Linked DNA regions of Homo sapiens. Changing the gene in region 7 together with the main gene of any one other region gives a genetic interaction. Each region holds a gene or a part of one and is shown on either strand. Other genes may lie near its edges. The genes, in order: PPWD1, CMAS, EIF3H, RRM1, YTHDC1, RPP38 and GTF2E1.

Region 1 (4,664 bases), on a different chromosome or scaffold from region 7:
TAAAGAAGAAGTCATGGCAGCTACTCAAGCTGAAGGACCTAAACGAGTTTCGGACAGTGCCATTATCCACACCAGCATGGGAGACATTCACACCAAACTTTTTCCTGTTGAGTATGTATAACAACTGTTTTTATTGGCTTATGTAATTAAGAATGTAAATGTGTATATCTGAAGAAACCATGCAACTTAAAATTCCCGTTACTTTGACTTAAGGAATTTTGAAGAAACGTTTGATAAAAAACATCTATTCCTGAGCTTTCTGATAAGTGTTACGGTAGAAAATGGGAAATTTTTATGCATATATACTTTATAGGTTCATTACGAGGACAAAATGTATTGGCTATGAAAGTGCTGAGTGTAAACTGTAAAGTGATACACAAATGTGTATCACTGTTACTGTTAACAGCACATCTGAACTCTAGGTTTTGTGGATTGCTTTGCTTTCCTCTCAAAGCAAATCCTTAAGAGAAAGATAATTATGTTTCCTTACCAACAGTTGCTAGATACCTACTATCTCTTTATAGTTTCAGTAGCTCTGTGTTTTAAAAGTGAACTACAAGCTGGGTGCAGTGGCACGCACTTGTAATCCCAGCTATTCAGGAGGTTAAGACAGGAAGATCAGTGGAGGCCAGCAGTTTGAGACTAGCCCGAGCAACACGGCAAGACTCTATCTCTTAAAAAAAATTTTTTTTTATTAGCTGGGCATGGTGGCACGCACCTGTATTCCTGGCTATGCTAGAGGCTGAGGTCAAAAGATGTCTTGAGCTCAGGAGTTTGAGGCTGCAGTTAGCTATGGTCAAACCACTGCACTCCAACCTGGGCAACAGAGTGAGACCCTGTTTCTACAAAAACAAATTACAACAAAACCGTAAGGGCTTCAATTGAAAAAAAGGTGAACAGTTTTCTGGACAGTTTAAAAGACTGTAAAATTAACATACAATGTCAAATACAGTAGAGTATCTCTGGCCATTCTTGACCCAAAAAATGACATCTTTTACAACACTTTTACTTAAAAGTTCTTATTTATTAACATTTTGAATATGAACGTTTTATACCATATCTTGGTACTCAACAAATAACTAGGCAGCTCTAGACTCTTGGACAGTCTCACTTTAAGTGCTCAAAACCCATGTACTCTTCGGCCTTGTTTGCTGATGTACTTGGGTACAAGATTCTCTTGGTTCGTCCATTTCCAGCTCTTAGAAGTATTACATGGTAATGAACCGTATGAAATAATTGCATAATTTTCAGTTAATATTATTGAGAAAGCTTCGTACTCTGAGTGTGATTGTCATTTAAAGTTGAATAAATTTAGATGTCATTTCTATGATTAAGGTTTTGGCCAAGAGTATGTCGCTGTAGCATAACAATGCTTTTGTAAGAAAATGACCTTTCCCAGGAACTTAACCTATACTACTACATGCAGACCTATAATACTATATGGAGTAAACTAACTTAAGATATTGGGCCAGGTACAGTGGCTCAGGCCTGTAATCTCAGCACTTTAGGAGGCTGAGGCAGGAGGATGTCTTGAGTCCAGAAAGTCAAGATCAGCCTAGGCAATATAGTGAGACCTTGTCTCTTAAGAAAAAAACATATTTTTAAGGTGCTATGGCTGTATTTTTTTTGACTGCTAAATGACCTTGAAATTTTAATACTGTCAAACTCAAATATTAGTTAAGCAGTCATGTTCTAAAGATAACTAAGTTGAACAATAAGAATATACTACTTACATGACCCTCCGTGCTTGTCCTGAGATTAGAGATTATGAAAAAAAAAAACAACTGTCCTTCTGAAACATTCAGAAGACATGGAAAGGAAACATCATTAGGAAGCAGAACTGCAAAGAAAACTGTTTTAAGATGCTCTGAATAGGTTTCATATTTGTAACATATGTCTTAATAGGTGCCCTAAGACAGTGGAAAACTTCTGTGTTCACAGCAGAAATGGTTATTATAATGGGCATACATTTCACCGTATAATTAAGGTAAGTTACATAAATTTCATGTCATATAAGAAATACTGTATTATTACATAGCAAGAGATTTAAGCGCAAGGAATCTTCTTCTCTCACACTTAATCAGTTTAGTGGAAAGGAACAGGAAAAATACACTATGGAAGCCAAAGGAGGAGTGGATGGTCATAAATATCAACATCTAGAATCAACAGGAATAGTGGCATGATTAGAAACACTGAAGCAATATTTTGTCAGCAGCTAAAGTAAAGGGTAAGATAATGAATAAAGGGTCATGCTGAGATTACATCAGTAACCTAGGTAACCTCTTTGTCGTGGCTAGATAGGGTCTAGATCTAGAAGATATGATTTTTCAATCATAGAGGAGCCACAGTGCCATCTGATCTGTGAGAACCTGTAATATACCAGAGGAGGAGAGAGAACTCAGCCCCTGGATTTTGTTGAGCAGCTTTCCATAAAGTGGATGGGGCACTGATACAGTGCTTGGTTTCTGGCAGGTCAGAAACGGCAGGATGAAAAGTCAGATCTCAGGGTCCTAAAGGAATTAGCGAAAAGGCTTTCCAGGAAATCCAGAGTATTTGGGGAAAGGGAGAGGGAGAAGAGGAGGGCAATTATATAAAACATAACATACAGATCCTAAAATTGATAGTATTAACTGGCTTTATTTGGGTTATTGAGAAAGACAGAACATGTCTATAAATGAGAAGACGACCTTTGCATTTATGTTTCAATCAAGGTGGTGGTTGGGCAATGGAAATACATCATCCAAATTTAAGTGTTAAGGGTTTAATCAAATCACTTTATAGTGACAGTTAATATTACACTGAATACAAAGCACTCTTGGCAGAAATAAAACTTCAAAGCGTACATATATCGAAAAGGACAATGTAATGTTTTTGTGTACTTTCTGTTAAGGGCTTTATGATTCAGACTGGAGATCCAACAGGTACTGGTATGGGAGGAGAAAGCATATGGGGAGGAGAATTTGAAGATGAATTTCATTCAACATTACGACATGACAGGCCATACACACTCAGCATGGCTAACGCGGGATCAAATACTAATGGATCCCAGTTTTTCATAACGGTAGTACCAACGGTAAGTACAGTATCATTGTTTATAAACTACAGATTGATAGGTTATGATGTAAGAGAGTGAACTCAGTAGAAGAGCTGCATTATTCTGTATTTTCTGCATTATTTATATCATCTAGCAGAATACAAATATGAAAATGATCAAGAATATAAAATTATGTGACTAATCAGTTTAGAATTGGTAAAACAATACTGCCACTGTAGTAAGAAATACAATGGACTACGATTCAAGATACTTGAGTTTCAATCTCAACTCTGCCTCTACTGATGATGTAACCTAAAATAAATTATTTCACTTCTGTGAGCCTATTTCCTTGTCTTTAGAATACAAAGATTAGAGTATATGAATTCACAATTTTGAGACAATTTCCCCCACATTTTAGTATCTCTGAAATCAGAATACATTAGATTTGATGAAATACAGTATAAGGTAACCTAGCTCTATTGCTATGCCATAACACAAAATTATAAAAATTACCTAGTTTTTGTTTTGGAATTAAGCACTAAGTGATGAAGAAGGGAAAAATGTAACTACCATCTGCCAGGCACATAGTTTTATGTAGTATTCACAGTACTTCTACTATCAGTATCCCCAGTTTTCAATAATAGATGAAGAAACAGTGAGACATGATTAACTTGCCAAAAGGTCAAGTAGCCAAGCTAGCATTTGAACTCCCACCTGTCTAATGCCAAAGTATGTGCTGCATAAACTATTTCAAACTGCCTCTGAATAAACTGTTCAGGTAAGAGTCCTCCAGAGACCTTTTAAAGCCTTAGCCACAATTCTGTAAGCCATGTGAAGTAACTTACCTTTAGGGAAGATCTTCCAGTTCCCTTTGGTCTGAAAGATGCAGATATTTAATTAAACATTATACTATGCTTCTATTTTTTTTAACACACTGGAAATAACTTTTAAAAGCTGCTACATTTTTATTGCTGAGAAATTATTGTACTTCTTTTTAAATATATGCTAAAGGGGAGCGTAAACTTAAATTCTCTTTAATTTGCTCAACCAGAGGATATAATTTAAAGAAATTGGGGTTTACCAAGATTTTCCATTTGTCCTCCAACACAGCCTTGGCTTGATAATAAGCATACAGTATTTGGACGAGTGACTAAAGGAATGGAAGTTGTACAGAGGATCTCCAACGTCAAAGTCAATCCCAAAACAGATAAGCCCTATGAGGATGTCAGCATCATAAATATTACTGTCAAGTAAAATAAGATTTGTTTTAATGTACTTGCAAATAAAAATACAATATTAAACAGATTATTTTACATTAGGAAGCTTAGGACTTGCTGAATATACAGATCATGTTTCAAAGATACAGTATTTTTGTATTTTTTATTAAAGGCTATTTTTTAAAAATTACCTTTGACTTTTCTCGCAATATTTCTAATCCTGGGAGGTGATAAATTGAAATGGACTAAACTCAGGCAAATAGCACTCATTATAGGTAATTTCTAATCAGCCTCAAATTAAATATTAAATAATTACAGTACTCTCCTCCACCCCCTTTCCCATGGTTTTCTTTCTACTGTCAACCATGATCCAAAAATAGGTGAGTACAATACAGTGAGATATTTTCAGACAG
Region 2 (4,115 bases), on a different chromosome or scaffold from region 7:
CATAGAAGGAGGTCAAAATATCAACATTAATGAGAGTTTGGAAGTTGATTCCAACCCTCATGGATGACTTTGAGGGGCTCAAGATTTCAGTGGAGGAAGTAACTGTAGATATGGTATAAATAGTAAGAGAATGAAGTTAGATGTGGAGCCTGAAGATGTAACTGAATCACTGCAATCTCATGATAAACTTGAATGGATGAGGAGTTGCTTCTTACAGATAAGCAAAAAATGTGGTTTCATGAGATAGAATCTACTCTTGGTAAAGATGCTATGAACACGAAGTGACAACCAATAATTTAGAAAATTACATAAATGTAGCTGATAAAGCAGTGGCTTGAGAGAACTGACTTCAATTTTGAAAGATGTTCAATTGTGAGTAAAATGCTATCAAACAGCATCACACACTAGAGAGAAATCTTTCATGAGTCAATTGATGTGGTAAACTTCATTGTTGTCTTATTTTAAGGAACTGTCACAGCCACCTCAACCTTCAGCAACCACCACTGTTCAAGGCAACATCCTTCAGCAGCAGAAAGATTGACTCGCTGTAGGCTCAGGTAATTGTTAGCATTTTTAAGCAATATTTTAAAATTAAGGTATATACACTGTTTATCTGGGCATAATGCTACTGCACACTTAATAGACTACAGTTTACTTTAAACATAACATTTTATGTACCTGGCATCCAAAAAATTCCTATGACTCGCTTTATTGCAACGGTCTGGAACCAAACCCGTAATATCTCTAAGATATTCCTGTATGCAAAATTACCATTATCTCTCAGGGGTAACTGCAAATAATTTGCTTCCTCCAAATAAATACATAATCTTCATAATATATAAATTTATTTGGATATTTGTATTTGTGTATACTGCTGATCCTTGAACAACATGGGTTTGAATTGTGTGGTCCACTTTTATGTGAATTTTTTTAACCATGTGCAGATCAAAAATACATGTGAATCATGCAGTATATGGAGGGCCCACTTTTTGTATATGTGGGTTCAACAGTGTTGACTGTGGTACTTGAGTATGCACAGATTTTGGTATATGTGGGTGGTCCTGGAACCAACCCCCACATAGACCATATGCTGTTACGTATACATATGTGAAGTACAATCAGATGCTCTACCCCGGCATCGAGTGGCTTGTTTCTCACTAAGATTGGTTAATGTTTAAAGGAAAGAAAGAAAATGCATGGTAAATTTCTTCTAGAGCAACAAGGCAGTTTTCATCAAGTTTGAGAAATGTAGTTTTATTAATAGAAGGGCATGTCTTACCATACACACTGTCCCCAGATAAATAAAATCCCAACATCTTTGAAAGCACACAAACACACAGTTTTACAGGGTACAATACAAAGTGAACTTTGATGATGTTCTTACTTGCATTTACTAAAAATCTGAGAAAGACTGTAATCAGTCTCTAAATAATTATCTTGCGTAAAGAGAAAAGTAGAGCACAATATATATATATCACAAACCAAATCACACTCTCTGTAACATTACAACATGGAATTTACTTAATCAAAAATAAAAGCAAACTGGCTGAAGAAGGCTGTATCATTTTTTTCTCAATATTACGCTAATTTCTATTTTTGGCATGAATTATTAACCTTTTCCATTAGTAGGCAAATGTGCTCTGCAAATTCTCGGATGGCACCACGGCCACCATTACATTTGCAAATGTATCCAACAGCCTTCTGGGCAGTAGAACAGGCATCAGCAGGAGCGCCACTTAGGCCCACTCTCTTCAAGCACTCTTCATCAGACACTTCATTTCCTATCAAGTAAAATAAATACTGAGCAAACATTTAAAGAGACAAAGAATATTCTAGCTAAATAATGCAGACAGCAACCAACAGGTAACTCTGGCAACTTCAGTAAGACCTAGGGGCACTGCATATAAGAATACTAAAGATTAGATGGAACAAAAATATTTTACAGTATAATTGAGGTCCAGGGTTTTCCCTAAGCAATCAAAAATAAACTCTTATGAGCTAGAGAAGAAGAATGGAGCATAATTGCTACCTGCCATGCATATTACAAATGTTAGAAATTTTATATATGAATTCTAAGTAAGTTATTTAAATTTTTCATTAAGCAAAATTTCAAACATATGCGAGAACCCCAATTTTATATTGAAAAATTATCAGAATTTAAAATCACTTAGTAATATTGTTTTCTATGCACTGCCCCCTAGTTTATTTGGGGAAAGGGAGAAGAAGGAATTCCCAGACATAATATTTTATCCAAAAACTCTTCAATATTTATCTCTGATAAATATAATTTTTTATCTGACAGAATATCATTAAACCCACAAAATCAGTAATAGTTCCTTAATATCCTCTAATAACCTAGTATATGTTGAGATACCCCCAGCTGTCTCAAAATTGTCCTTTTATAGCTGACTTATTTGAATCAGGAATGAAATAAGGTTAACATATGGTCTTTTGTTTATATATATATAATCTCTTAAATCTCTTTTAATCTGTAATGGTTCTGATTGGTATGCCATTTATTAATAGTTGCTGAAAAATTACCATTTTTAAAGAATAAAAATAGATACTAAATCATACTGACATAACGATATCCTTTTCCTCCCTCTCTGTTAACCCCTTTTTTGGAATAGGATGCATTTCAGAAGCTCCCAGTATCTTTAATTCACCATTCTGAGTAAAACTATTACTATACTTTAGACCACATACAATAGTACAATCTTGGTTGAAGAGAGTTTCTTTTACATTTGTTCTATGCTTATCTACTGAAATTTTCTCATTTATTATTAAATGTGTTGAAATTTGAATCGTTTTCACTAAAATAAAAAAAGTTAGTATTTGCATAATCCAGCCTTTAAGCTCTATTTACTAAATTTTACTTATAAAAGTATTGATTTTTTTAAGAAATATATTTTTATACACTTATGTCACCCATATAAAACATTGGTGAGTGAGTTATTATTTTTTTTTTTTGTAGACATGGGGCCTCACTATGTTTCACAGGCTGGTCTAAAACTCCTGAGCTCCAGGGATCTGCCTGCCTCCGCTTCCCAAAGTGGTGGGATTGTAGGCATGAGCCATCATGCCTGGCCTGCTGTGAGTTTTAAATAAAAATGTAAATGCTCTTCTCCATTTTCTTACCTCTCCTTTTAAAGTGTGTGTGTGTGTGTTTTTTTTTTAATGTCATATAAGTAATACGTATTCGTGGTAGAAATATTTTTTTAAAAAATAGAAGCAAAAAAGTCACAATCATCCTAATTATCACTATTTGTAGATAATCACTACATTTTGACACATATAATTCTAGAGTTTTACCTATATAAATGATACACTTATTACTATCTGTAGGCACTATGTTAAGCATTTTATATTATCTTTGTTTTTCTTTCTAATGGCTTTATAAAATTTGGTTTGTGTTTATATTCTAAGTAGAAAACTAAGGTATACAGAAGCTTGCTTAACATCCCAAAGAAAGATAATAAGTATAGTTGGAATTTGTTATACATTCCACTAAAATTTTCTTCTAATAAAAATTGGATCTGTCTTTAACAAACATTCTGCAGCATTTATGTCCATTAAATCTTCATGTGTGGTTTAAGGGTTATTCCTGAAGTCTCTAGATCACATGCTCCCAAAGTTTTTCCTGTGCTTCTTATTTTGAGGCTCATATTACCCTTGTAAATACTGCTTTCATACATGATTTATAGTTATTATGCATCTTAATAACTTATCAATTTTAAAATGTTGACATCATCAGACTGTAAGCTCTGCAAGCAGAAAGCCTACAGTTCCCACAACCAGTTCCATGCTGCGTATCATCATAGGTACCTGGTAAGTAAGTGTATTGCTTAATATCCAAGTGAAAAACATTGTTATATTTGATCATGCAAATAAATACAGGTCACAGCACTGTTTGTAATGGTTGCATAGTAATCCTTTTTAGGGATATTCTATTTTTCACAGGACATTTAAGTGGGTTCTTTTAACTTCACTATTGGCCCATTTGTCTCATTTCTTTCCTGGAATTGGAATTTGGAGGAAAAAGTATGTACATTCAATTAGCAGCAAAAACTATTCAGAGTGTAATTCATATGTACTAGAAATTCTGCTAAGTGCTT
Region 3 (4,664 bases), on a different chromosome or scaffold from region 7:
GTGGAAAATTCATCAAGGTCTGATGATGCAATGTTTCCAGCCAATATAAGTATACTTTAACAACTTGTTCTTTACTGTAATCCAATTGTTAACATACTGAAACAATTTTGGGGCAGCTCATAAGATTGATCGTATTCATTAGTATTTTTTCTGACAGATACTCAGGACGTTACATTTACTTCTCAGCTGGAAACTATATGCAAGTCTGCCAGATATGGCAAACTGTGAGTGTTTGGGGAGGGGGAAGGCTATAAAGCTGTTAAATTGCCTACAGTTCTGATACAGCACAGAACATCTGGTCTGGAGAGCTTGAGGAAACACCATTAAATAGGCCGAAAAGAAAAAAATCTTTGTGCTAAGAAACAGTCCAGGTTTTGTACGCTGTTGTCAGAGGTATAAAAAAAACTTGGCACACCGTATTATGATTGGTCAGTCACGTACAGAGCCAGACACTCTAGCAATCGGGGTTTGTTAGACATCTGGTCTAGTTCCACCAGCCCCTTCAATGAGGGAGGGGAGATGGAGGAATAGAAATGAAGCAGCTACTCCAGCATTCCAAAATGTACACATCAGGGCTCTGATAGCAAGAAAAATAAACAGAAAGAAGGAAACCCTGTCTAGACTGAGCTGCTGCTGAGGCTGCTGCAGAAACAGGGTTGGTATTTACTTGAGAAGGCCTGCCAGACTGCTCTTAGAGGCAAAAAGGACAGAAAGCAAAAATAGTAGTAATAATATTAAGGGAAAAAAGAATAATAAACCTCCTACTAACCATAAATGAGAACGACAGATTCTTCAATGGCATGCTGGTAACTAAACTGAGAGTCCAGGAGTGCCCGGGTAACGAATGAGCCATAGTATGTGGACTGATACCAGCCCACGTGAAGATGATCAATGTTTACATGGCGAAGGCTCCGCATCATTTCCATCTGATATTGGACTGGATGATGGGGAAGAGGAAATTAAAAGAAAAAACTTTTTAATGATGTTACCAACATCAAAAACAAGCCGTTTTGGAAACAAATGTCTACATAACAATTTATTAGCAATAGGGAACAGGATTCCAGATTTAAAATTCATTCAGTTCACATATAAAGCAAAACAAAATTAGGCTTTTAAATCATCAGGGGTTTCCTTTTATTCTTTAATGAAAAAATATTTTGTAGAAAATGTATTACACACAATATTAATACCTTGTTCTAACCAAAGAATTATTAAATGTGGCGTCTAACTCCCCTTTTTGAAACTCTCAAAATAGTAAATGTTTAAGAAAAATTTGTGTAATTACTAAATTGGTTGGTTGTAAGAAGTTTCATTTGAATTAATAAAAGAGGAAGAGTTATCAATCTCTTCTTCAACACAGCTTTTAGAGCTGAGAAACTAAAACCATTAGGAAAACTAAGGAGAAACAACTACCAACCACACTGCTTATATATGAAGAGGATACAGGCTGTAGCTGATTCAAAATGTAAGAGTACATTTTTGCCTTCATCTGGTGCCCCCTGCTGCATATGCTAAATTTTTTAAAGAATTATTTTTTCTTGTCTGTGTGTTCCTTTAAGTAACAGATACTATGTTTTCCTTAGAATAAAGTTATATTTTAATGACCATGTATAGAATGAAAAGGTTTAGTGACTTTTACTTTTGTCAAATTAATGACTACAAAGTATAGTAATGACTATAATGTATACTATATTAAAGCAGTATTACCAGAAAAACAGATTAAAACTAGCAATATAATAAACGACATTTTAAAAAGCAATATAGCACAATAATGCACAGCAAATATATAATACAGGAGAAAACTTTATAGTCAACATAATAGCCATGCTATTTCTATTATTATTTATTATTATTATTATTGACACAGGGTTTCACTCCCATTGCCCAGGCTGGAGTACAATGGCCTGATCTTGGCTCACTGCAACCTCTGCCTCCCGGGCTCAAGTGATTCTTTTGATTTAGCCTCCCAAGTAGCTGGGACTACAGGTGTGAACCACCGCACCCGGCTAATTTTTGTATTGTTTTTTTGTAGAGATGGGGTTTCACCATGTTGCCCAGCCTGGTCTCGTACTCCTAGGATCAAAGAATCCACCCACCTCGGCCTCCCAAAGTGTTGGGATTGCAGGCATGAGCCACTGCATCCAGCCCCAAACTATTTCTATTATAATGAATACATGACCATGCTGAGTAAACGTATTTGCTTAACTTGAAACCTGTTTCATTTTCAAAATTCTTACTCAGGTTTTAGCAAAAGAAAAGTTATATATCTGTCATTCTTTTGGTTATACCACTATGGTTTTACAAAGCCTACAAGACTCAGGATCATAAAGTATAAAAGAGTGTTCCTCAGATGGACACAGTCTGATTTTTCATTACTTGTAGGAGAAGAAGTTATAAATCTGCTTATTCCAAGGAAGGTTACAGTTCTCATGCTAAAAGATGGCAGCCAACTCATCAACTACACAAGAATTGCGTGTTTTTTGAGATTTTTTTTTTGCTATGTAGAAAAGCTAAACAAACAAACAAAAACAACCAAAGTTATTTTGCCACTATCTGAAGAGACTTTCTTAAGCCTACGGCAATGTTGCAACAGAGCTGGAAACTGCACTACTGTAAAGATGTACAGTTTAAGTGCCTGTTTTGAAAGTGGGCTCATTTATTCATAAAAAGGAAAAAAAGTGTTAATATAGAGGAAGTTAGGCTACTAAGGGTATGGGGGAGAAGGTGATACCAGACACCAGACACCAGATACCAGACACCAGACACTTTGTATACCAAACCAGTGTTTCTGTATATTTATGAATAAAATACAAAATCAAAGTCATATAACCTATGCTATACTCTAAACCACCATTAAAAACATCACTACCTTAGAAACCTATTTTATACACAATATGACAGCCGAAAAAGCAGTATGAAATATGATAATCTTACACCAATTATTTTTTATCTTCATATTTTATTTCTCTAGCATGTAAGAGGAACCTCACCTCCCCCCAGCTAGTTTAACAGATTCACATCAACCACATAAATTTGGCAAGTGGGATAGAATCACTGCTATGATCTCCTTCTGTTTCGAAATTCCATAATTCTTTTAAATCAAAGTAAAATCACTGATTTGGCTAATAAATTTTAATCAAATTTAATTTATGAGTGAAAAGTCCCAGTATTATAAGTAAAATGGGAGCTGAAACTGAATTTGCTATTTATTTTAAAGGGAAAGGGAAGAGGAGAGATTAAGCAACTGACAGAACGAGTAAGATTTTAAAAAACATTATTTTTAAATCAAAACTTATGCAACGTATTAGTATAAAATTTAGCTACAATATAAGAAGAGGTTGGAGTCTGCCAACTTATAATAGCAGAAAAGAAAGACTTGGAATCTAGAGGTCGAGGTTCTCATGCCAGCTCTGAGATTTCCCCTGTGGGGATCTTGCTGTACAGTTAATAATTCTTCTTTGATATTTAATTTTCCCATCTCCAAAGAGATCTGAGAACCCAATCCCAGTCAAAACGCTATTATTCCACATTGTTCACTGGACATACTAATTATAAATAAAGAATTTTCTATTAGCTAAAGGGGCCTCCAGCATGCATTATGATTTAAAATAAAAATACATTCCTCTGAAAAATATTCTGTAATCTTGCTAAGTCTGTCCTCAAATAGCCTGAATACAAGAGATTCTCTAACAGCATTTCAGGATACACAAGGTAAAAAACTCCAAGATCCATAGCAAACTTCCAAATTTCTTCTTTATCCAGAGTCTTACCTATTCTACAGCACCTCTGATAAGGGTAAGAATGAAAATGAAACGTTCCTCTAAACTAGGGAAGAAAGTCAAGAAAGCCTATAGCCGTGTGGAGATACCACTCCTCCAACATATTTCTGGGGACTGAGGAGTAAAGAGAGATCAGCTTCTTTATTAGGGGAAATGAGGGGAGCATTTCCATTTCCTCTTCCATGGTTTAGAATATGACATAAAAGATTTTGCAAGATTTTGGACACATTTGTAAGTCATAAGAGTTTTCATATCACCTAAATATCAAAATAAAGAGGCTAAAGAGCAATGATTGGTCAATTAAGAAAATCACTTTAAAAATATACAATGCACTAGAATTTCACTAATAAACAATGTATGTGTTGGGCCTAATCTATGTAAAGTGAAGGAGATTCTCTATCTTGGTTTGGACTTACCACCCCAATTTTAAAATTAAAAACAAAACTTTTTTTTTAAGTGCCCTCTCAGAGGCATCATATAAAGAAAGGACCTAAACAAACTGCAAGTGAGTCTTAAAAGGTGGGGCTGGGGATGCTAGAGCTCCGAAATGAACCACAGTGCACAGAGGCCCAGTTCTCACCATGACTGCTCCTATGAAGCGCCAACAAATGCAGTGTTTGAAAAGAGCTCACTTTGATGTAATAAGGTAAAAAAATAATAAGTAATACTGTTTCTGTTTATTATAAGCCAAGGAACAAGAGACACAACTCACAAACAGCCACATGAACTGCGTTATCTCTGTAGACTTTCAGGTCTGTGTCCCCATTCTTTGAATCCCATCTCCCTTCACCCACAGTTTATCCTCCCCTTCCCACCCAAATTTTCAAAAAGTAGAAAGCCAACTCCTGCAAAAGCTTCCTGGTAAACCTAAGTAGGAATACGAAA
Region 4 (4,664 bases), on a different chromosome or scaffold from region 7:
ACCTCACCTTCACTGATATTCTGACAAGCCCTTAGCAACAATGGATCTCAATTTGTGATTTCTGAAAAAGCTCTTCCAGTGATTTCTCCACTACACGAGGCAGTGAGCTTCTTCACACAAGGATCATCTTATTTATATTTATATGTTTAGCACTAGCAACACATCTGGCACACAGTAAGTCTTGATAATGTTGAATGAATACACTTTCTTTTCCATTTTGATTATGACTATCCCAAGCCAAAGTCTTAACTTCTCTCACATGGACTACTGAAAGTTTCCCAGTTGAACTCTTGATGCCCTTCACATCTACTCCATTCTACACATGTTGCCAAATACCCATTTTTTTAAATATAGCTTGAATCACAGAAGTCTAATAAATGCCAGGAAGAAAAATAGGCAGGAAAAGAAGACAGAGAGTACTGGGGATAAAGATGAAGGGGGTATAATTTTTAAACAGAATTGTCAAGAAGGACCTCATTGAAAATGTTACATATGAACAAAGAACTGAACAGGTTAGAAAGCAAATCATGTGGCTATGGGAAGAGGGGGTGCATTTTAACATTCAAGAGGGAAGAAGGAGCAAAAATCCTGAGGTAGGAGCATGGTTGACATGTTTGAGAAAAAGCAAGAAAATTAATAGGGTTGGAGCAAAGTGAACAAAGGGGAAAGTAACCGCAGATGAGGTGGGTTATCCAGTTGTGTAGGACCTTGTAGGGCACTGTAAGAACTCTGGATGGAAAGGAATGAAGTACTGATACATGCTACAACATGAATAAAAGAACATGTTAAGTGAAAGAAGCCTGACACAAAAGGCCACATATTATATGACTCCATTCCTATGGAATGTCCACAATGTCCACAAATCTAGAGACAGAAAATATATTAGTGGTTGTCAAGGGCTGAGGGAAGAAGGGAACAGGGAGTGACTGCTAATGGATAAAGGGTTTCATTATCTACAGTGATAAAAATGTACTACAGGCCGGTCACGGTGGCTCACGCCTGTAATCCCAACACTTTGGGAGGCTGAGGTGGGCGGATCACGAGGTCAAGAGATTGAGACCATCCTGGCCAACATAGTGAAACCTCGTCCCTACTAAAAATACAAAAATTAGCTGGGTGTGGTGGCACGCGCCTGTAGTCCCAGCTACTCGGGAGGCTGAGGCAGGAGAATCGCTTGAATCCAGGAGGCGGAGGTTGCAGTGAGCCGAGATCGAGCCACTACACTCCAGCCTGGTGACAGAGCAAGACTCTGTCTCAAAAAAAAAAAAATAAAATAAATAAATACTACAATTAGATAGTGGTAATGGTTGCACAGACTTGCAGATATACTAAAAAAAAGAAAAGAAAAGAAAAGAAAAAAAACACTGAATTGTACATTTTAAAAAGAGTGAATTATAGCTCAATTTGCAAAAAGAAAGAACTCTGTTGAGGTTGCAGTGAGCCACAGCCCAGCTTGGGCAACAGAGTGAAATCTTGACGCCCCCCGAAAAAAAAGGAATTCTGCATGGGTTAGCAAGCCAAAGAGTAGTTTTGTGCAGACAAATGACATTATCTGATTTTTATTTTAAAAATGTCACTCTAGCCTCTATAATATAATCTGTCTTGCATAATAGTTACCTCAATATATGTCGATGTCTTCCAACTAAATTAGAAGTTTCCAGAGGGCAGCATATTTATTTATATTCTCAGAGCACTTAACATTGTGTTTTACATATAGCTACTGCACAATAAATTTTGAATTAAACTGTAACCTTAGCAGTATATTTAACTCACTTTCCATTTACTTCCTGACTTTTCATTTGTCTTTTTTTTTAAGGTCCTAGAATTGAGGATCTACTCCTTCCTCGTTTCCATAGTTTACATCCAAGATCAAAGCAGCCTGTCATCCAACTAGTACAACAATCTCCCTAGGCTAACCTCTAATCCCTTCTCACAGCAAGACACTCTGTAACCAGAAGCAAGAACCTTCCTTTTCATCTTAACATTTTGATGCTATTTTCCTCTCAGAAACCTACAAGGGCTACCTATCCGTGACGTGTCAGCTTCTACCTTCTATCTCCCTTCCCCCAGCCATAGCCATCTCTCCATATTCCAATAATTAATCTACTTGCACCATCAAAACAGACTTACTTGCCACACTGCATAAAACCCAGCCCTGTCTCTGGTGTATCATACAGACCACTCTTTCCAAATGGAAAGCTCCTCTCTCAAACTTTTTTTTAAAACACCAAATCCATGTCCCATTTCTAGCCTTGATTCTTCTGTGAAGTCTCTTTACAGACTTGAGATTAGAATTTGATCTCACCATTCACTGAAAGGACTCTCTTTATAAGCTTACATACTTTTGTTGTTGTTGTTTTTGGTTTTTTGTTTGTTTGTTTTGAGACAGGGTCTCACTTTGTCGCCCAGGATGGAGTACAGTGGCACAATCTCAGCCCACTGCAGCCTCCACTTTCCAGGCTCAAGGCTTACATAGTTTAAATTGAATGTACATCCTAACACATTTTTGTGTGTGTCCTAAACTAACATAACTGTATATTTCTATTTTTCTTGAGTAAATGTTATTACAGTGATGTGTGTATAAGAAAAAACTGTGTCTTTCCCACACGGCTTAGACTAAAAAACATTTATAGGCACAGATCATACCCTTTCCTTCCTTTGCTCTCTGCCTTTAACAGTGTTCTTCTGCTTACAACTATGCAAACTCCCTTCACTTATCTCAAGTGAAATCAAGTGAGGAATTCACAAATAATAACTGCCTAAGGTTCTCTTCTTAGTACTCTAGGAAGAATTTTTTCTACCTACCTCATCTTTGCTGGTGTACTCCACTATTTCTGTGCACAGGTTGCTGCATTTGATGGTTCCCAGGTTCTGCTGGTTGCTCTTTCGATTACAGGAATCTTTGTAGAGCATATACGGGGTGCCTGTTTCCGTCTGAGACTCAATGATGGCATACCAAAGCTGCTGAGCTTTTACAACTTTGCGGACACGACCTTGTTTCTCATAACTGAAAGGCACAGATAATATTATTTAATATATATTCCCTAAAAAAACTTTATTGTAGACAACTTGAAGACATTAAAATATAAAGTTATGAAAACTCTTAAATTTTCTCTAAGTTTTGCTAAAGAAAAAAAGGAATATGATATTTATTTTACTCTAGCTAAAGCCATAGGGGAAAATGAGGCAGTTTTAGGTGCCTTCAGATGATCGCAATCCCACTAAACCAATAATATCTTTCATAATAAAAAGGAGTAAAAACTAAGGAAGCCAAATCTCTTAAGACTGTGCTAAATTTTTTTCCTTTTTTTTTTTTTGAGACGGAGTTTCGTTCTATCACCCAGGCTGGAGTGCAGTGGCACAATCTCAGCTCACTGCAACCTCCACCTCCCAGGTTCAAGCAATTCTCCTACCTCAGCCTCCCAAGTAGCTGGGACTACAGGTGTGCACCACCACGCCCAGCTAATTTTTGTATTTTTACTAGAGACAGGGTTTCACCATGTTGGCCAGGCTGGTCTTGAACTCCTGACCTCAAATGATCCACCTGCCTCATCTTCCCAAAGTGCTGAGACTACAGATGTGAGCCACTGCACCTGACCTATTTAATTTTAATAAACTACTGACATATGTGTCCTAGTCACTCATGATTCCTTTATGCAACATAAAGCATAGCTTATCAAAAGTACTATATGACAGAGCAAAATAATAACCCTACTAGTCATCTTAAATTTTAAAAGGATCAATTAAAAATCCCAAGAACCTATTTATACATTCCAAAGTTTTAAGAAAGAAGAAGACACAACTCAATTTTGGTGAAGAGTCAGGAAGCAAATCTGACCAAAATTATTAGTCACTTTTTCTCTTAGATGCTTCAAAAGATTCTTGACAAGTACTTTTGATATTTGGACCCCTGAAATAAGAGAAACCATGATTAAAACATTATTGTTTTCTTTCATATTTTTCCCATACCTTGCATATAGTTTCTCAAATTCCTCTCCCCAAACCTCATCCAGACCAGGACACTCATTTGGACACATCAAAGACCAGTCCTAAAAAGGAAAGGACAAAATCACTCATAAGAAACTTCAAATAGCCAACCATAATCCATTAGAAACACTGCAAGCATAAGGTGACTTTTACAAGCTCTCTTGGAAATTTGCTGTAGAAATAATCATTTTCAGGTTCAGGCCCAAACATCTAGGTCTGCCTGTTTATACATGACCTTTTAAGCATTTAGGTCACAAAGCATCTACTTTAGAGAATAGAAATATAAGAAGACAAGCACGGCATCTCTTAACTTGTTCAGAATGCCTTCTGTGGCATCACACACATATGGGCTCTTCCTAAGCATGACTTAAGATGACTAAAAAAGAGAAAGCTCATGTGAATCAAGTTGCTATTACCAACAAGTACCTATCTCTCACCTGATTAGTCTCCACTCGTTTCATGAAGAGATCCGGAATCCAAAGAGCAAAGAAAAGATCTCTGGCACGCTGCTCTTCCTTTCCTGTGTTCTTCTTTAAATCAAGGAATTCAAAGATGTCTAAATGCCAAGGCTCCAGGTAAATAGCAAATGCCCCAGGACGCTAGTGGTAAATAAATCATAATTCTCTTCAGAATAAAAATGAAACAAAGAAACATCATGTCTCCCAAAGCACTTTTAT
Region 5 (4,664 bases), on a different chromosome or scaffold from region 7:
AGTTCTCAGCTTACCTTACTGATTTTGGTCTTCTCTCAAAACTTAGCTGAAATAAGATTTGAAAACACAGTCCCACATTACCTTTTATATATGTGATTATGTAAGTAGAGAATATGTATACTAACCAAAAAATCACTACATAAAGATCCATAAAATAGAACTTGTTAAAAAGGATATAGTTGAGGAAAACAAAAAAATCTCAGACTTCCTATTTTAAAAGCCATGTGATCAGTTATGGGAATTTTTAAGACACCACAACCCATCTAGTCAACTAAGATTTCATTATAGATAGACTGTATATTTCTTTCTTGTGTGCTTAACTGAAAATAAACTACTAATTTAAAGTTTGTGAATTAGTTAACTAGTACTCTCAAATTATTTTACAGAATGTTAGAAGTCATGATAAGATTTGATTTAGAGAAAATTACTATCTTTATAAGGAAATTACTGACAACACAAAAAAATGTCTCAAAGATAGGCTAGAAAGCTGCTCTGATTCTCACAAATAGGCCCACTCTTCATCTTAAGTGGGAAAATAAAAAGATGTTTATTTGGCCCCATACAGACTCATCAACCTAAGTAGGGAGTGGAAAAAAATTCTAACTTGCATATCCTACTTAGTTTAACAACAAAACTACCTTTCTAAGGCTATCAAACTTATATGCATATGAATTATGCTTCCAACACTTGCCAGAAGACAATTCTGCTTTATAAATAAAAGTACTATTGGGGGGGGTGGGGAAGCATTTAATAAACTCAGCCCCACTAGTTAAAAACCCAGAAAACTCAAACTAAAACTAGAGTCTTTTTTTCACTGGTCCTGTTTTGAAGCCATCAAAAAAAGCTTTCACATCAATCTTATCAAATAATTAACAGAATCAATGAATAAAGGACATGTCTGCTACATATCATAACATCTGGTTATTCTTTGCTAACATCACAATAACCAGAGGTAAAACAATTTATCAGTTACTAGCTTTAACATTTGGTAGAAATAAAAACAAATGACTAAATGAGATTACAGCTTATCAGCTAACTTAATATACACGATCTATCCTAGAAAAATTGAGTAAGAATACACAAAAAGTTCAGAAATATCTATTAACAATATTAATTACATAGCATAATTAAGATCTCAATATGGAAAGAACATAGCCTAGGTACTACCTAAAAGGAGTTCTATTTGTAGGCGTTTGCCTTAAGCAGTTTGTGATTTGATCAGTAAAAGAAATATATTCTATCTATATAATCCAAAGGGGCATAATCAGGCATTTTTAATAAAAACAAACAATTATTCCAAAACAGTCTGCAGTAAGAATATGCAATGGTCCGTCAATCATCATACTCTGGTCTCCCCATATTTAAGTTACCTACAGAATTCTAAGTAGTTCCCTCACACCTTTGCCTCCTTGTGCACTTACTACTCGTTTATCTCTGTATCTTGCTTCATGTGGTACTGGATGATGTCCTGAGTAAGGGGGATGAGCTTGAGGAGGTGGAGCATGGTGCTGATAGTAAGGATGGTGTGGAGGTTGTTCCATTCCTGGGTAAGGGGGCTAAAAAAGGAAAACCATTTACATTAAGAATCTACCAACACCCTTGTAAACAAGCGATTCTTAGAACCCTTCATCCAAAACACCAATCCCAAACAAGTGAATCTGTACTAGACATTTACTTTGATGGCATTAAGGTGTTTCAAAATATGCTTTTTGTCGAAAATTACACATCTTCTAAGATTTAACATGTTTATGCTTTTCTACTCCTATCATATAAATAACAATGGAAATAGCAAACACTTACATGGTGCTTACTGTGAGCCAGGCATTGTTCTAAGCACTTTACTAGTCTCATTTAATTCTCACAGCAACCTTATGAGATAGATACTATTGTTCCCAGTTTACAAAAGGGAAAACTGAAGCAACAAGGAGTTAAGTAACCTGCTTATAGTCACACTACTGTTAAAGTGGTGAAGCAGGCATACGGCATCAGGCATCCTAGTTCTGCAGTTGGTAAACTGGTTAACCACTTTGTATGTATCTGTTCTTAGAAACATCAACAGGCCTGGTGTGGTGGCTCACGCCCATATCCCAGTGCTTTGGGAGGCTGAGGGAAAAGAATCCCTTAAGCCAGGAGTTGGAGACCAGCTTGGGTAACAGAGTGAGACCTTGTCTCTATAAAAAAATTAGCCAGGCACAGTGGCATGTGCCTGTAGTCCCACCTACTCAGGAAGCTGAGGCAGCAGGACCACTTGTGCCCAGGAGTTCAAGGCTGCACAGAGCTATCATCACACCACTGCATTCCAGCCTGGGAGACCGAATGAGACCCTGTCTCTCAAAAAAAAAGTCCAGGAGCAAATTAACTTTTAAATGCCATTTAAAAAATGAATAAAGGGTAAATTAAAGATTACTTTCATAGTTACTATCAAGATCATATATTATTAAATTTTTAAAATTTCCTAGAATCTAAAGGGGAAAAGTCTCATAATCATCTGCATATAATAGTATAAAACTGTATACCTTAAAAGTGAAACAAAAGTCAGATGAAGAGGCCATATAACATATTGCATTTAAAAAAAGACATAAATTAAAATGTAAGAAAACAGTAGAAGCTACTTCAACTTCCAGGTTTTTATTTCTTGAAAATTAATGCTTCAGCTATCTTCAATATCTTAAAATATACTCTAAGACAATTCAGTTTTCTTAAAGGAAATAATTAAAAAGCAGGAATAATCAGGGTTTAATTAATCTTATTTTACACAGAAAATTTAGTGAGTATTAGATCAGGCACTATGCTAAACTTAACATGTACTTTGTAAATTTATCTTGACAATGAAAATGACACTACTACATTAAATTTTAAGCTATACCAGGACAGTCATGATGTCAATTTCATTCACCATGATATAATCAGAACAAGCACAGTGCCTTGCACAGAGTAAGTACTAAATATTATATTTGATAAGACAAAGCATCAGTGAATGCCCATGGAATTTTACAGATGAGGAAAACTAAGAGTTGTATTAAGAAATTAACCCAAAGTCACAGAGTTGGGAAGAAAAAGAAATATATCTGAACCCAAGCGGACTTTGCACTACTAATTACTACCATAATACACTATTACAGTTCTCAAGCCTGTACTATTAACACAAATGAGCTTTTAGTCTTTAGTTTGAAAGACAGCATACAATTATTTATCATCAAAAATCTGTATTTTAAGTCTTTTTGAGATGGAGTCTCCCTCTGTTGCCCAGGCTGGAGTGCAGTGGCGCAATCTCGGCTCACTGTAACCTCTGCCTCCTGGGTTGAAGCAATTCTCCTGCCTCAGCCTCCCCGAGTAGCTGGGAGTACAGGCACACGCCACCACACCCAGCTAATGTTTTTTGTATTTTTAGTAGAGACAAGGTTTCAGTTTCACCGTGTTGGCCAGGCTGGTCTCGAACTCTTCACCTCAGGTGATCTAGCCGCCTCAGCCTCCCAAAGTGCTGGGACTGCAGGTGTGAGCCACGGCGCCTGGCCAGTTTAAGTCTCTTTAATGAGTAACTGTAACAATCATATTCCGAGTAAGCACCTGAAATACTAGAACTGCAAATTAAGTTATGTAACTTATAAAAATAGAATAATACAAACCATTCCTTGCCAAGGTGGTGGTGGTCCCATGTTATGAAATTCCCTCACATAATCATTGTAGGACTAAAATAAAAGATGATAATGTCAATATAATTAAAAATTATCACAGAACTGCAAAATAAATCAGAGCCTGATTTTATCCACATTAAATAGATAAAATGAAATGCTTACCCCATTTAAAAACACATCTCGGCGAACTCCTGAAAATCGTCTGTTGGGAATAAGATTTGTGAAACTAAATTCAGGTAATTCATAAACTAGTTCCAAGAATGTAATTCAAAACTAGGCAAGAGTGAACCCGACTTACCTGTCCACTTCCTGGTATCGTGGATCCTTTAAATACCCTGTTCAAACATCAAGCATTTTAGTAAATCAAATTTATATTTTTCTTTTATGGCATTATAATTAAACCTTCCTTACCACTCGTTTCAATTCTTTCCATGAAATATGTACTTTAAGTGATGCTACTACTGTATTATCCCATTTTCAAATTTTCTTCTCAGATTACATGATAATCTAGGAAATAACTAATGATATCATAGAATTGTAAACTGCTAGAGAAGCTTTCAGATAGGTATCTTCTATGTTCACACTCCAAATCTTGCTAATCAGAAAATTTCTTCCTTCTGCTTCACAGGGAAGGTAAGGGCAGAGGAACTATCTTGAGCACACTATGACAGGACTTCCTTAAAACAAATGTTTACTTTCCACCTTGGGTATATGTAGGTCTTACCAAGAAAACCACAGATAAGCTTTTTAAAATGTAAACTTAAGGGGGAGGGGGAAAAAATTGCAAAAGTTGCAAAAATGAAGATGTATACACTGAAAATGAAAAATCGATGGTGGTTAGAAAAATATTCTTTCCCCTGCTTCTTTTAATAAGAACCCAACAAATTAAAATGTAAAAACATTTGAGTAGTCATGTTACTGGGGAAAAACTATTTTCACTTTCTACAACAGGACAACCTATTTTGGAAGAATGAGGCTAATCAAGCCACTTGTTACATAATAGTGCTATAATGATCACTAACATCAATC
Region 6 (3,366 bases), on a different chromosome or scaffold from region 7:
CATAATTTGTTATCAAATTATTAACCACTTTTAAATAGAATAATAACTACATTTGCCTCCATAATTGAAGCAGATTACTAATTAACATTTTCGAGAATTAAACTGCTTGCTTATGAAGTAGCTATTAAAACTAAATTGAAATGCAATGGATAGTTTCTTGTAGATTTAAAACTGCATTGTACTGTACTTTGTCTATAATGAAAATGTTCTATTCAATAAGGTATCTTTTTTTCTTCTTTTTGGCCAAGATGGCACTAAGTAAAATTTAAATCGAGAGATGGCATAATCCATGAGTCAGCCAGACTTTCAGCTGGAAAAATCTTTAGTAAATACCTTCCTTCTAAATTACAGAAAGTAACTTTTCCATACACACTGTAAACAGCAGACACTCTAACAGAGCATCGGTTATGCTCCATCTCCTAACCTGAAGGACTCTTGTCACACACCCACCTCTGAGAACCCAAGCTCCTCAGTTTTTTTAATCTTTTGGCCACATTTCATCCAATTACCATCATACCTTTTATACGTTAGATTTCCAAGGAGGTAAGTGAATCACGTAATGGGGGTGAACTGTACCCAGTCAAAATAACCTTATCTGACTTTTTCTATATTTTTGATATTTTTTCTCTAAATATTAAGTCTTTCTCCCAAGCTCATGTCTATTCCTTCCTAAAAGTCAAATTGACATGAAGTGAAAAATGATGTGTTGCTTCTGAAGACAATGGATTGCTTGGCATTTGGGATCTTTCCTTTAAAACTGATAATGCTTCCCCAATTCAGTTCCATCTACCTGACTGACTAGAACATTTACTGTGGTACATTTTCCAGGTTTGATAGGAAAATGCTAAGCGTTGTATGACACAGATATTCTTGCTCACAGGCACTCTACCAGCCTTTGAAAAAGTCAATTTAGGCTGGACGCGGCTGCTCACGTCTGTCATCTCAGCACTTTGGGAGGACAAGGCAGGTGGATCACGAGGTCAGTTCGAGACCAGCCTGACCAACATGGTGAAACCCCATCTCTACTAAAAATACAAAAAAATGAGCTGGGTGTGGTGGTGGGCACCTGCAATCCCAGCTACTCAGGCGGCTGAGACAGGAGAATCGTTGAATCTGGGTGGTGGAGGGTGCAGTGAGCCGAGATTGCGCCGCTGCACTCCTGCCTTGGCGACAGAACGAAACTCTGTCTCAAAAAAAAAAAAAAAAAGGCCAGGCACGGTGGCTCGCAGCTGTAATCCTAGCACTTTGGGAGGCTGACGTGGGCAAATCACGAGGTCAAGAGACGGAAACCATCCTGGCCAACATGGTAAAACCCCGTGTCTACTAAAAATACAAAACTTAGCTAGGCATGGTGGTGCGCACCTGTAGTCCCAGATACTTGGGAAGCTGAGGCAGGAGAATTGCTTGAACCCGTGAGGAGGAGGTTGCAGTGAGCTGAGACCGCACCATTGCACTCCAGCCTGGACAACAAGAGTGAAACTGTCTCAAAAAAAAAAAAAAGAAAAAGAAAAAGTCAATTTACACACGCATGAACACTAGTTTCAATAAATGTCTGTTTGGCTATTCCTAATTTTGAATATTTCCTGCACTTAGTATATCTGTGCCATAGTTACAAAGAGTCTTACACATTTGAATATTACCAAACAGGACCCTATGAATCTATGTAAGTATAACTCATTTTATTAGTTTCAAGGCTTCTTTACAAGGTGTCCTTTCACAAACTGTATGACATGACAAGTTTATGCAAGATTACTTTGGAGTAGCTTTTTTACTTTTGGGTGGTTTCCTTATCTTATTAGGGTTTGGAATCAGTTTCTTTATTTTAAGGGGTTGTAATGTTACAGAAGCCTGCCGACCGTCAGCAAGCTTTCTCTTAGGTTTTGACAGATCTTCAAATGAAGTGTCCAAAAGCTCTCTGTCTTGGCTTTCCAGAGGTTCAGTCTCTAAATTTTCCCCAGAATCTTCAATTCTGTCTTGAAGCCATGGTACACTTAAACTGGGGACTCTGGGGATGATGGCTCTTACTTCGTCCACAAAGTCAGTGGTGTTCTTTTTGAACGCCAAGGCTAGAACACATTTTAAGCCAATGACGGGGGCGATTCTCTCACTGAGCCGGGGGACCTGACAGGCAGGGACACTTCTGCTTAGGCTTAACTGAATCAAGTGTGAGGTGATCATGGCAGGCTTGACTGATTTACACACCAGAACTAACAGCAGTTCCCTCCTTTCCAGGGCTCTGGTAACTTCGTTAACGCCAATGGCAAGCTGCTTCCTGACGTGTGCAGGCGTCCACCCTGACACTTGCTGCTTAGCATCTGTTTTCTTCTCCTTCAGATTCTCACTAATATCAACAGCAATGCTGCATTTCTCTCTGCTTTCTTTTTTCAGAAAAGGTGTTTTGTTCTTTTTCTTCTTATCTTCAATCTTCTGAAGTCCAATAGCTTTAAGCCTGTCCTCAAGCGTCTGTAGGATGAAGTGCATATCCTCGCTCTCCAGAGCGCTCCAGCGGATGATGTATGGGTTGTTCAACGACGTCTTCACAACCAGAGGTCTCGTCTTACGGAGAGATCCCCGCCCCGGTGCTTGAGGAGCTGCAGCCATTTTGAAAATCCTTCCAAGAAGCAAAATGACAACAGAAAAAATTCATGTTAGCGACAACTGCATGACTTAAGAATATCTTGACTGTACTCTCTGATTCTTATTTATTTATGTATTTATTTTTTGAGACAGAATTTCACTCTTGTTGCCCAGGCTGGAGTGCAGTGGCACAATCTCAGCTCACTGCAACCTCCACCTCCTGGGTTCAAGCGATTCTCCTGCCTCAGCCTCCCGAGTAGCTGGGATTACAGGCGCCCGCCACCAAGCCCAGCTAATGTTTCTATTTTTTTTTAGTAGAGACAGGGTTTCACCATGTTGCCCAGGCTGGTCTCAAACTCCTGACCTCAGGTGATCCACCCACCTCGGCCTCCCAAAGTGCTGGGATTACAGGCATGAGCCACTGCGCCCGGCCTGTACTCTGATTCTGGATAAGCTAGAGCAAGCCTGATTATATAAGTCCAATTAGGTGAGCATACGCTTGTCTTCCTTTTAAAGATTAAGTAATTTTATTTTTCCCCATTTTTCTTACCCGATTTTGAATGCTCTACGAAGGCTCTTTAAAATACTCAGGACTATGGGTGAGTAGTGTTTAATTTTCCCCATTTTTTTATATGACTTTGTCTTTATTCCTATACAAGCAATATGTGAAAGTTTTAATTATTGCAATCATAGTACAATTCCATTTGTCTATTTCATTTATTAAAAATATTCTGTTTCTACTTGTTCATAATTAACCTTCTAGTGACTGTATGGTATTAATCTTCTAAC
Region 7 (4,664 bases):
TCTGAGGCATAAAGGGTTAAGAATTGCATACTAATCTTCGGAAGTTAGAGAACTGCAAGATTTTACTTTCTAAGTTTTAGTCTAAGTTACTGCATTCAAGACTTTGAGTGATGATGGTTTAGGAGTATGTAGAAAATGGGAGGCAAAAATGGATGACGATGACTCAAGCTGGAAAGTAGAGAGGAAGGGTGTCTCTATTTCTTGCTGAATTTTATCAGTGTAACAATCAATGTGCCGCTACTCCCAAGTTAATATATCATTACTAACATATCACGTGAGTTTGGTGATATGTTAGTGCCAAAGAATAATCAGTAGCTGAAAACCACTTGTTTTTTGGCGTTTCTCCTAGCCTCTTTTCCCTTCATAATTAGCATTTAGTATATGTATATACTAGAAATTGTGAAGGTAACGTGGAGTTTGGTAGTGATGGTAAAGCAGCTAATACCTCTACTGTGATTCTCTTTGATATATTAATTTTAATAAGAAAAGGTTTTCCAAGGCAACCATACTTTACCCTCCTTCTTCCTCACTGATTAGCCTGCCATGTTAGTTTTTTTGACGGAGTCTCGCTCTGTTGCCTAGGTTGGAGTACAGTGGTGCGATCTTGGCTCACTGAAACCTCTGCTTTCCGTGTTCAAGTGATTCTCTTGCCTCAGCCTCCTGAGTAGCTGGAATTGGGCGCAAGCCACCATGGCCAGCTAATTTTTGTATTTTTAGTAGAGACGGGGTTTTGCCATGTTGTCCAGGCTGGTCTCAAACTCCTGACCTCAAGTGATCTGCCTGCCTCGGCCTCCCAAAGTGCTGGGATTACAGGCATGAGCCACTGTGCCCAGCCTGTTGTGTTATTTAGATTGAAGTTGTTTTAGATTATACAGTAGTTAGGCTATACTACTACTTAATAAATTTGTTTTCCCCAACTTGGCTTCTTGCCTGTTCTTAAAGCAGCCTTCTTTTCTTTGAACTTAGGAAGAAAACTGAATAAAATAAAATTATTATTAACCAACATTATATATTAAGCTCATAAGTTTAACATTCTAGTTTACAGTTCCTAAAATGATAGAATATGAATCATATGGGCCTTAAATAAGTTATCTGGTCTACTTAAGTTTTGTAAATATTTATTTCTGCATAAAATAGGATAGTATGTTGTCATGTCTGAATTTATCCTAAGTTTCTTGATAGTAGAGCAGACTCTATCCAGTGAATGTATGAAGTGGGTCTTAACACTTGATTTTCCTCAAACTTCAAGTCATGTTGATATCTTTCACAATTGTATCGACTTCAATCATGTTCTCATTACTATACTGAAGAAAGTTCTAATTCCTTTTGATTCTGTTTTCCTTAAACAGTTCTCTTTTCCACTGCTGCCACCTCCTACAGTTTTTGTTTATTTTTGTCTTTTTCTGGACCATCTCTAATTGTAATATACTTTACTTGAGACATAGTGACCAGAATGATACATGTTGTTCATGCATGGATTCACCATTGATTTGAGTTTTATTTCCAGTATCTTTCTGGTTTTTACTTGAGATTTTGTTTGTTGCTTTGGTTCTGGAAGCATGTTAAGACCAAAAACTTCTAGAAACACGTAGAGGTACTTTTTAGGTTCTTCTGTGCCTTGAATCCAATAGCTTGGATCATATCTTTCAGTATATTTTAGATTATTTTTCTGCAGGCTGATTTTCTTGCACTTGCTGAAATAGAAATAGATCTGCTACTTTTCTGCCCACGTATACAACCTTCAGCTCTTCCTATATTTTTTTGCTGCAACTTGGCCTTTCAGTACCCACAATTGCTTAGCATCAATTCCGTGAATATAGTTTCCCAGTATACATCTTCTTTGTAATTTATAACTCTGTTGAAAAAGGCTGTTCCTAGAACCACTGTTTCTACTTTACCATCCAGAAATTTGCTCATTTATCCTTGTTTTTTGTTTTCTGTCTTCATCTGTAACAGAATAATTCTTTTTTCTCCAAACCTCTCAAGACCCTTGTCAGAAATCTGTTACGTGTGACTTAATTTAGTTTACAAAACTAATTTTCTTTTTCCCTAATTTAATACTTAAACATTAATCAAAATACTGTGTTGATATTATTAAACTATTTGGAACATTCTTTTAGAAGCAATTATTGTCTTAAAGGCTTGCATGCATTCCTTACCTTCTTTTCTTTCTGTTGTAGTGCTGCATTGGCAGTAAGCTCTAAGGAGGAGGTTCAGCCTTTGACAATATTTTGAAGTAGTTAAGTTTGATTTTAACTCTCATTTTGACAGTCATGTTATCAAAAGCCTCTTTTCTCTGACCTAAACTTTTAACTTGTCTGCTTCTGTTTCCCTTTCTCTCTCTTATCTGCTCAGTATCTCATTTTAGGAGTTCTGTGCCTTCTAAAATGTCCAGGGATTTAGCTAATTCATTTTAATGTGTTAATGAGAAGATGCTTTCACTTTATCCATAGTCAGAATTGACCATTTCTGAGTCTTCTCTTGATGACGATGATGATAGATAACACTATTCTAAGTGCCAGGCCCATTCTAGACACTTCACAGACATTCACTTAATCCCCACAGTAATCTAGTGAAGTAAATACTATTTTCCCCCTTTCTGTACTTGAGAAAATTGAAGCGGAGAGATGAAATAACTTGGCCAGAATCATACAGCTAAATAGTGTTAGGATTTGAATCAGGGAGTCAGGTTCCAAACAATACTTTTAATCTTTTTATGTATTTTAAATGGCAGTATGTTTGGTAGTAGTATCAGAATGCAGAATGCAGATGGTTTTCTTAAATATTTCATCTGCAGTATATCAGGTAAGATATGTACACAAAATGATAGGAGGTGTGTGGTGAGAGAAGCTTCATTCCTAAAATTAGATTCTTTTTTTATAAAGAGTTTTAAGTATGCTTAGTTTGCTTCATGAAAATAAAACTCACATTTATTCACTCATTTGTCAGATGTTTATTCAGTGCCTAACAGAGTGGCAGGTACTATTTAGGTAAATGGGATATATCCATGAATAAACAAGATAAATATCTGTTGTGGTAGAACCTACATCCTTGGAAAGGGGGTGACAAAGACAATAGATGTAAGTTATTCATTATGTTAGGAAATAAGTGCTATGGGGGAAAAATAGAGCATTGGGAATGTAGGGATAGGATACATTTAAAAGGTAACATTTGAATAAAGACATGAAAGATGGAAGGGAGTTAGCTGTGTGAGTACCTAAAGGAAAAATATTCCAGGCAGAGGGAACAGGTAATGCAAAGGCCCTGAGGTAGGAGTGTGTCTGATATGTACAAGGAATACCATGGAGGCTACTGTGGCTAGACAAGAATGAGCAGGGGAAAGAAGTAAGAGGTAGATGATCAGGAAGGATTCCAGATGATGTGGGACCCTATAGGCCATTGCAAAGCTTTTGGCTTTTACCTTGAGTGAGATAAAGAGCCATGTTTTGATTTTCTGTTATGCCAGCTACTCTAGTCGATTCTTCATAGACATTATCTTATATGTTTTTATTCAGAACCTTAGAAAGTAGATGCTTTTATCACCTCATTTTACAGAAAAAGGTATTGAAGTTTAGAGATTAAATAACTTGCCCAAGATGCTTGTGTGTAGAAGAACCAGGATTCAAATCTATGCTATAATACTCTTAAAGCCAATGTACTTGACCATTATGCTACTTAAGCTCCAGTTTGTAAGAAATATTTTGAATATTTTATGGATAGCAGCTCAAAAATGGAACCAGTGAAGTCTGTTATTTTATCGTATTATTTAAATATATGTTAAAATATTGTCTATATGCTATAAAGAAATGCCATTTATATTTAAGGATATTGACTTTCTGAGTTTTACTCCCCAGGGGGCATAGATATGGACGCATTTCAGGAGCGTGAGGAAGGCCATGCTGGGCCTGATGACAACGAAGAGGTCATGCGAGCACTGCTCATTCACGAGAAAAAGACTTCCTCTGCCATGGCTGGTTCAGTGGGGGCAGCTGCTCCAGTGACCGCTGCCAATGGCAGTGACTCAGAAAGCGAGACCAGTGAGTCAGATGATGATTCTCCACCCCGTCCGGCAGCTGTGGCTGTGCATAAACGAGAAGAGGATGAAGAGGAAGATGACGAGTTTGAAGAAGTAGCAGATGACCCCATTGTCATGGTGGCTGGCCGTCCGTTCTCCTACAGTGAAGTGAGCCAACGGCCAGAGCTAGTGGCCCAGATGACACCAGAAGAAAAGGAAGCATATATAGCAATGGGACAACGCATGTTTGAGGACCTCTTTGAGTGAGCTTTCCCTAATTCTTTCTCCTTTCTCTAATGCTCAGTTCAAAAAGGAATGTCTCATCTTTGAAGAAAAGTATTTAAGTGGCTTTCTGCCCCTCTTGATGTAAGCAACTGTCCATCCTTGTGCAAAGATTGATGGTAGAGAGTTTGACTTTTATGCCAGAAACTTTCCCAGCAAGGTAGGGTGCTGAGAATCCTACCCTTCCTTGCTGTCACTACAGTATTAATATTTTACTGTATTTTCTTTTCTTTTTTTTTTTTTTTTGGAGATGAAGTCTCACTCTTGTACCCCAGGCTGGAGTGCAATGGCGTGATCTCGGCTCACTGCAACCTCTGCCTCCTGGGTTCAAGCGATTCTCCTGCCTCAGCCTCCCGAGTAGCTGGGA

Evidence for each region.
Region 1: changes in GTF2E1 (region 7) and PPWD1 together harm fitness less than expected from each alone (positive genetic interaction), as found in Homo sapiens cells (one large-scale study listed by BioGRID).
Region 2: changes in GTF2E1 (region 7) and CMAS together harm fitness more than expected from each alone (negative genetic interaction), as found in Homo sapiens cells (one large-scale study listed by BioGRID).
Region 3: changes in GTF2E1 (region 7) and EIF3H together harm fitness more than expected from each alone (negative genetic interaction), as found in Homo sapiens cells (one large-scale study listed by BioGRID).
Region 4: changes in GTF2E1 (region 7) and RRM1 together harm fitness less than expected from each alone (positive genetic interaction), as found in Homo sapiens cells (one large-scale study listed by BioGRID).
Region 5: changes in GTF2E1 (region 7) and YTHDC1 together harm fitness less than expected from each alone (positive genetic interaction), as found in Homo sapiens cells (one large-scale study listed by BioGRID).
Region 6: changes in GTF2E1 (region 7) and RPP38 together harm fitness less than expected from each alone (positive genetic interaction), as found in Homo sapiens cells (one large-scale study listed by BioGRID).

What each region holds. Positions count from the first base shown.
Region 1 is NC_000005.10:65,583,109-65,587,772, forward strand, and holds the end of PPWD1 (peptidylprolyl isomerase domain and WD repeat-containing protein 1), read left to right. Parts: coding exon 1-111; intron 112-1,905; coding exon 1,906-1,987; intron 1,988-2,890; coding exon 2,891-3,073; intron 3,074-4,144; coding exon 4,145-4,288; 3' UTR 4,289-4,441; downstream 4,442-4,664. UniProt on the Homo sapiens protein: PPIase that catalyzes the cis-trans isomerization of proline imidic peptide bonds in oligopeptides and may therefore assist protein folding. May be involved in pre-mRNA splicing.
Region 2 is NC_000012.12:22,062,787-22,066,901, reverse strand, and holds the end of CMAS (N-acylneuraminate cytidylyltransferase), read right to left. Parts: intron 3,130-4,115; exon of another isoform or gene 2,975-3,129; intron 1,782-2,974; coding exon 1,591-1,781; 3' UTR 1,234-1,590; downstream 1-1,233. UniProt on the Homo sapiens protein: Catalyzes the activation of N-acetylneuraminic acid (NeuNAc) to cytidine 5'-monophosphate N-acetylneuraminic acid (CMP-NeuNAc), a substrate required for the addition of sialic acid.
Region 3 is NC_000008.11:116,658,044-116,662,707, forward strand, and holds part of EIF3H (eukaryotic translation initiation factor 3 subunit H), read right to left. Parts: intron 938-4,664; coding exon 770-937; intron 1-769.
Region 4 is NC_000011.10:4,121,526-4,126,189, reverse strand, and holds part of RRM1 (ribonucleoside-diphosphate reductase large subunit), read right to left. Parts: intron 4,587-4,664; coding exon 4,425-4,586; intron 4,050-4,424; coding exon 3,970-4,049; intron 3,008-3,969; coding exon 2,806-3,007; intron 1-2,805. UniProt on the Homo sapiens protein: Provides the precursors necessary for DNA synthesis. Catalyzes the biosynthesis of deoxyribonucleotides from the corresponding ribonucleotides.
Region 5 is NC_000004.12:68,314,893-68,319,556, forward strand, and holds part of YTHDC1 (YTH domain-containing protein 1), read right to left. Parts: intron 3,971-4,664; coding exon 3,934-3,970; intron 3,862-3,933; coding exon of another isoform or gene 3,838-3,861; coding exon 3,798-3,837; intron 3,690-3,797; coding exon 3,627-3,689; intron 1,557-3,626; coding exon 1,422-1,556; intron 1-1,421. UniProt on the Homo sapiens protein: Regulator of alternative splicing that specifically recognizes and binds N6-methyladenosine (m6A)-containing RNAs.
Region 6 is NC_000010.11:15,102,550-15,105,915, reverse strand, and holds the end of RPP38 (ribonuclease P protein subunit p38), read right to left. Parts: intron 2,612-3,366; 5' UTR 2,602-2,611; coding exon 1,750-2,601; 3' UTR 1,659-1,749; downstream 1-1,658. UniProt on the Homo sapiens protein: Component of ribonuclease P, a ribonucleoprotein complex that generates mature tRNA molecules by cleaving their 5'-ends. Also a component of the MRP ribonuclease complex, which cleaves pre-rRNA sequences.
Region 7 is NC_000003.12:120,777,189-120,781,852, forward strand, and holds part of GTF2E1 (general transcription factor IIE subunit 1), read left to right. Parts: intron 1-3,854; coding exon 3,855-4,282; 3' UTR 4,283-4,664.